Linked DNA regions of Homo sapiens. The protein of the gene in region 1 interacts with the protein of each later gene in a biochemical or structural test. Each region holds a gene or a part of one and is shown in the gene's direction. Other genes may lie near its edges.

Region 1 (2,488 bases):
TTGCTTGAGTCTAGGAGTTCAAGACCAGCCTGGGTAACATAGAAAGACCCTGTCTCTACAAAAACACAAAAAATTAGCCAGGCGTGGTGGTGCATGCCTGTAGTACCAGCTACTTGAGAAGCTGAGGCAGGAGGACTGCTTGAAGCCAGGAGTTTGAGACCAGCCTGGGCAACATAGTGAGACCCCGTGTCTACAAAAAGTAAACATTTATATATATATTTTTTAAAGTGGAGCAGTTCAATATAGAGTCTTTTTTGAACAAACGTGAAATAGATGTCTTTTTTTTTTTTTTGAGATGGAGTTTTCACTCTTGTTACCCAGGCTGGAGTGCAATGGCGTGATCTTGGCTCACCAGAACCTCCGCCTCCTGGGTTCAAACAATTCTCCTGCCTCAGCCTCCCAGGTAGCTGGGATTACAGGCATGCACCACCAAACCCGGATAATTTTGTATTTTTAGTAGAGATGGGGTTTCACCATGTTGGTCAAGCTGGTCTTGAACTCCCGACCTCTGCTGATCCGTATGCCTCGGCCTCCCAAAGTGCTGGGATTACATGCGTGAGCCACCGTGCCCGACAATAGATGTCTTTTAATTTTCTGGAGGAAAAAGCAAAGCAAAAGAAGCAGTGGATATTTTAAGACTAAAAAGGAAAACAAAAAAAGGAGATAGAGCAGGCCAGACGTGGTGGCTCAACGTCTGTAATCCCAGCACTTTGGGAGGCCGAGGCAGGTGGATCACCTGAGGTCAGGAGTTCAAGACCAGCCTGACCAACATGGTGAAACCCTGTTTCAAAATACAAAAAATTAGCTGGGCGTGGTGGCGGGCACCTGTAATCCCAGCTACTTGGGAGGCTGAGGCAGGAGAATCCCTTGAACCCAGGAGGTGGAGGTTGCAGTGAGCCGAGATCACGCCATTGCACTCCAGCCTGGGCGACAAGTAAAAAACTCCATCTCAAAAAAAAAAAAGGAGATAGAGCAAGGAACAGTAAGAAAATAGTTGGGTGCAGTGGCTATGCGGTGGCACTATAGGAGGCTGAGGCGGGCAGATCACCTGAGGTCAGGAGTTGGAGACCAGCCTGGGCAACATAGACCCCTATCTCTACAAAAAATTTGAAATATGAAAAATTAGCCAGGTGTAGTGGTGTGCGCCTGTGGTACCAGCTACTCAAGAGGCGAAGGCAGGGAAGATTGCTTGAGCCCAGGAGTTTGAGGCTATAGTGAGCTGTGATCATGCCACTGCACTCCAGCCTGGGCAATAGTGTGAGACTCTGTCTCAAAAGAAAGAACATGGCCAGGCGTGGTGGCTCACACCTGTAATCCCAGCACTTTGGGAGGCCGAGGCAGTCAGATCATGAGGCCAGTTTGAAACCAGCCTGGCCAACATGGTGAAACCCTGTCTCTACTAAAAATACAAAAATTAGCCAGGCGTGGTGGCATGCCCCCGTAATCCCAGCTACTTGGGGGTCTGAGGCAGAAGAATTGCTTGAAACCGGGAGGCAGAGGTTGCAGTGAGCCGAGATCGTGTCATTGCACTCTAGTCTGGGCGACAGAGCAAGACTCCGTCTTGGAAAAAAATTTAAAAAAAGAAAATATAAAATATGGTATAAGATTAAATATATTAGTTATGAAAATAATTGTAAATGGCTTATTGAACTTATAGTCAGTAAAAATCATGTTTTTGAAAATTATGTAATGACTTTGGAAAATACCAGCAATATAATGTTAAGTGGGGAAAAAAGCAAGTTACTCCTCTGTAATACATATGATTTTAGTTTTGTAATAAAAATTCCCAACCATATATGCACTTATAGGGAAACAAAGGACCCATCGCAAATGTTTTCCATGCTGATCTCCAAAGTGGTGAGTTTATGTGTGATTTTTATTTTGTTTATGCTCTTCTGTATTTTCCGAATTTCATACAATAAATATCTGTTACTTTTACAATATGAAAAAATAGTGGTCAAAAAGGTGTTCAAGGGGGTGGCCTGGGGGTGTCTGGTTTGAGGAGAGTGGTAGGGGATGAGGCTGCAAGTGGAGGTTGGAGCCATGCTATGAAAAGTTCAAGAGTTTGAATTGAGTTCTGAGGTTTGTTTTTGTTTTTGTTTTTGTTTTTTGAGACGGAGTCTCACCCTGTCACCCAGGCTGGAGTGCAGTGGCACGGGTTCATGCCATTCTCCTGCCTCAGCCTCCTGAGTAGCTGGAACCACACGCGCCCGCCACCACACCAGGCTAATTTTTTTGTATTTTTAGGAGAGACAGGGTTTCACCATGTTAGCCAGGATGGTCTCGATCTCCTGACCTCGTGATCCACCTGCCTCGGCCTCCCAAAGTGCTGGGATTACAGGCGTGAGCCACAGTGCTCTGCGTGAGCCATAGTGCTCTGCTGAGAGTTTGAATTGCATTCTGGAAGTAGTGGTGAAATCAACACACCTAAGTCTGCTCTTCTCCTCTCTTCTAGTCCCCAGAGTGGTGAGTAGCATCGTTCTGGTGG
Region 2 (3,765 bases), on another chromosome or scaffold:
CTTTATTACCCTGGAGGCAGGTGCTTATATAGAACCAGAGATTGAGTAATTTCTTTCACCCATCCCTGGTTCCATTTTCTCAGTTCTTTTTACTGATTTAGATCTCTTATATCAGAAGTTCACAGGGGAGAGAGAGAAATAAGCAAACCGAGGACATGGGGAGCTCAAATAGTCTTTTAATATTGACAGCTAGTGTACAGAGCTTTCCCCTTTTGTAAACTTCAAAGTCAAAAGCTCTAAAACACTCATTATTTTTGTTTTTGTATCACAATAACACACAAAATGAACAAAGCAGGCAATATCCTTATTTCCTGGCGAAGGAAATAGAGGTGCAGAGGTACTCACACTGACTTTCCCCATCTGGTGCAGCTCATCTGAGGCAGAGCCAGAGCCAGACCTGGAAGCTTAGCACCTTAATATTTTAACACTAAGTTTTTTCCTACTATACCCAATGGCCATTTCCATAGTCTTTTGGATTAGAAGGAAAAGCTTTGCTTCATTCTGGGAGCCTCAGTCCCATTGGAGTTATGGCATATATGTACAACACACCCATAAGATATTAGGGATAGTGCTTGTACCCTGGGGACTCTACCTGAGTCATTGCCATGATATCTGAGATGGCATGTTTAAAGCAAACCTTGTTTATAATCTAGTAGGTCTTGGAGGTTGGGCCTGTTGGTTTTTCTGAAAGCCATTAGGACTCAGTTCATTGCTCTGTAGCCAAAGGCCATCCTTTCATTTCTGAGCAGTATTCTTATAAACATAGAGTGTTGGTCCTAAGAGGATCTAGGAGAGAGTGTACCTGACTCCATGAGGTCCATCCCTACTGTTAGCCCCTAAAGTCAGCACAAACTCCTGACACATTACTGCTATGCTTAGGGACCACAGCACATCATTTGATTTGTGGATGAAGGTACAAAGGAAGGTGTTCCCCTTGTTGTTTTTGATCATCCATTCTTGTAGCTCTCTTACCTTTCAGGCAATTCCTTGTGTCTAGTTTAACACCTTCTTGCTATAATTTCGGTCTGCTTCCAGTGTGACCTCAATTGGCTGACTCTACATCCTCTTTGCATCAGCCCCTTAGAAAGCTAAATGGGCTTCCCTTCTCTCCTGCACAGGGACTTTGTGCTTTAAACTACTCATCACCCATTGTCTTTCCAGAGTCCTGGAACAGCACAAACTCAACAAGGACCAGTGGGAGGAGCGGATCCAGGTGTGGCATGAGGAACACCGTGGCATGCTCAGGTAAGCTTGCCCAAGCAGTGGTGGGCCCCACTTCCCTTACAGGGTGAATGAGAATGCGTTCTAGGGAGAAGAGACTGATGACAAGGGACATTGGTGGATGTTGGAGAAAGAGGGAACAGGGACGATAGAAGGCAAACTAGGACCATTATAAGGCTGTTTTTTGTTTGCTTGTTTGTTTGTTTTGCTGAATGCTGGTAACTGGTAGCCCAAACAGTTTTGACTATCAAGAAATGGAGGGAGCTCTTACACATGGCAAAGCATTTTTGAGGGTTGTGTAGTTGAAGGACAAATATCATCATTTTGCCATCACCACATTCTGAGCCCTGCTAAGAATGTGCCTTTATAAGAGGCTGTCACAATGAATGAGAGAAAGAAAATTGCTTCTATGGCAGCCAACATGCCAGAGGCCAGCAAGGGTCAGCCCATCTTTATTCCCCTTGGGAGCTTAGACCCTAGGTTTTTGTTAGGAGATTTTGCTTTGCAAAAGTCATGCTGTGCTCTGTTCTCCATCATCTGCTTGCCTTTTGTCCCCTTTCCCACTCCTGATAGCAAGATCCTTGTCAGAAGTACAGAGTAAGCAGGCTTTCTATCTCCTTGGGTCTGACTCACAAGCCCCACTTTGTGACCCCCAACTCTGTGTCATTTAGGGAGGATGCTGTCCTGGAATATCTGAAGATTGCTCAAGATCTGGAGATGTATGGTGTGAACTACTTCAGCATCAAGAACAAGAAAGGCTCAGAGCTGTGGCTGGGGGTGGATGCCCTGGGTCTCAACATCTATGAGCAGAATGACAGGTATATCTCAGATCTCTTTTAGTTTATTTAGGTCACGTTAACATCTAGGGCTCACTTTTCACCAAGGAGCAGGGCCATATCTCTTGGGTCCCATCTCAGTTCTTTTTCTACCTAATTTAGTCCAGCCCAGATGATTTCACAACTTCCCTTAGTCAATACTAAATCCTGTATTGACTAGACTCACACTGTCAACTATGGTAGCCACCAGCCACATGGGGCTATTGAACACTTGAAATGTGGCTACTTTGAATTGAGATGTGCTGCTGTAAGTGTAAACTACACACTGGACTTTGAAGACTTAGTGTGAAAAACAGAACGTAAAATGTCTTAATATTTTAAAAAATATTTATTTACATGTTTAAATGATAATATTTTAGATATATTGGGTTAACTAAACTTACTATAATTTTATTACATCCATTTCTTTTTACTTATTTTCATGTGGCTACTAGAAAACTTAAAATTATATATGTGACAGTCATTATGTTTTTATTGGATCGTGCAGGCCTAGACTATCTTATCAGCATTTGTAATTAGTCTCCTGTGATGGTTAAGTGGCTTTTGGCCTATAATCCTCTCACTGTAGCCTTATCCCACTTGCTTATATTTTTCACTTGGTGTGCTCTTGGTGAGGATGGAGAGCAATAAATTATTGTTCCATATAACTCCTGAATCTTGGAGTTCATTATTTACTTTCTCTCAAACTTTTGTAAGCTTGGATAGAAGAGACTCAGTTAAATAGGGCTGGGGATTCCCTTGAGGAACTGTTACAAGTTCCATGCCTCAAACAAATACATAACAAAACAAACTTGAGACAAGGAATCATATGTTAGTTGTACTATCAGGAGATCTTTAGTGAACTCTCAATGCTGGCAGCTGACCTGGTGGCGTGTGATGACACTGGCTGAGCTGTCACTGAGTCTACCTCCTCCAGAGAGAAGTGTTTGTTTGGCCAGGCTCAGTGGCTCACGCCTGTAATCCCAGCACTTTGGGAGGCTGAGGAGGGAAGATTGCTCAAGCCCAAGAGTTCAAGACCAACCTGGGTAACATAGTGAGACCTCGTCTCTATTTATTTTAAAAAAAAAAAAAGAGAGAGAGAGACATAGAAGCTTGGAGGTGACAGTGAGGGCAAGCCCCCAGTTCTCTACACCCTTCTTGTCTTGCCCTTGTCCTGATGTTATTGGTTTCTATTTCTACAGACTAACTCCCAAGATAGGCTTCCCCTGGAGTGAAATCAGGAACATCTCTTTCAATGATAAGAAATTTGTCATCAAGCCCATTGACAAAAAAGCCCCGGTGAGTGATTCCTCCCTCTGACCAAGACAGGTACTTGCCAAGGCCTGCATAATGAGCAATCATGCTATTCTATTTTTCTCTTCCTTTTCTGATGTGTTTGTGTGTACGTGTGTGCGCGCATGTGCACGAACAGGAAGCACAAATAGAGATTGGGAATGGAGGGGGATGTTGATGCCAAGAAATGGCCAGCAGACATCCTGTACCTGGTTCTACTCTGCTACCTGTCTCTCTCACTGTGGATGTGGGAGAGCCACAGGCAGTGTTAAGAACTGCTTCTTAGCCATTGCCTCTGCTGCCCTGAGGTTCTGGGGTGGAAACCGAATGCATCTCATATTTCCAAGCCCCTGGGTCCCAGAAAGTGGACACTGTTCACATATTTGATTCCTTCCTTCCTTCCTCTCTCTCTCTCTCTCTTTCTTTTTTTTGATGG

What was found. The genes of interacting proteins can lie anywhere in the genome.
Region 2: the proteins of SPN (region 1) and MSN form a complex in vitro, tested with the Homo sapiens proteins (2 studies listed by BioGRID).

The regions. Positions count from the first base shown.
Region 1 is NC_000016.10:29,668,926-29,671,413, forward strand, and holds the end of SPN (leukosialin precursor), read left to right. Parts: 3' UTR 1-1,951; downstream 1,952-2,488. UniProt on the Homo sapiens protein: Predominant cell surface sialoprotein of leukocytes which regulates multiple T-cell functions, including T-cell activation, proliferation, differentiation, trafficking and migration.
Region 2 is NC_000023.11:65,729,946-65,733,710, forward strand, and holds part of MSN (moesin), read left to right. Parts: intron 1-1,161; coding exon 1,162-1,245; intron 1,246-1,892; coding exon 1,893-2,039; intron 2,040-3,238; coding exon 3,239-3,335; intron 3,336-3,765. UniProt on the Homo sapiens protein: Ezrin-radixin-moesin (ERM) family protein that connects the actin cytoskeleton to the plasma membrane and thereby regulates the structure and function of specific domains of the cell cortex.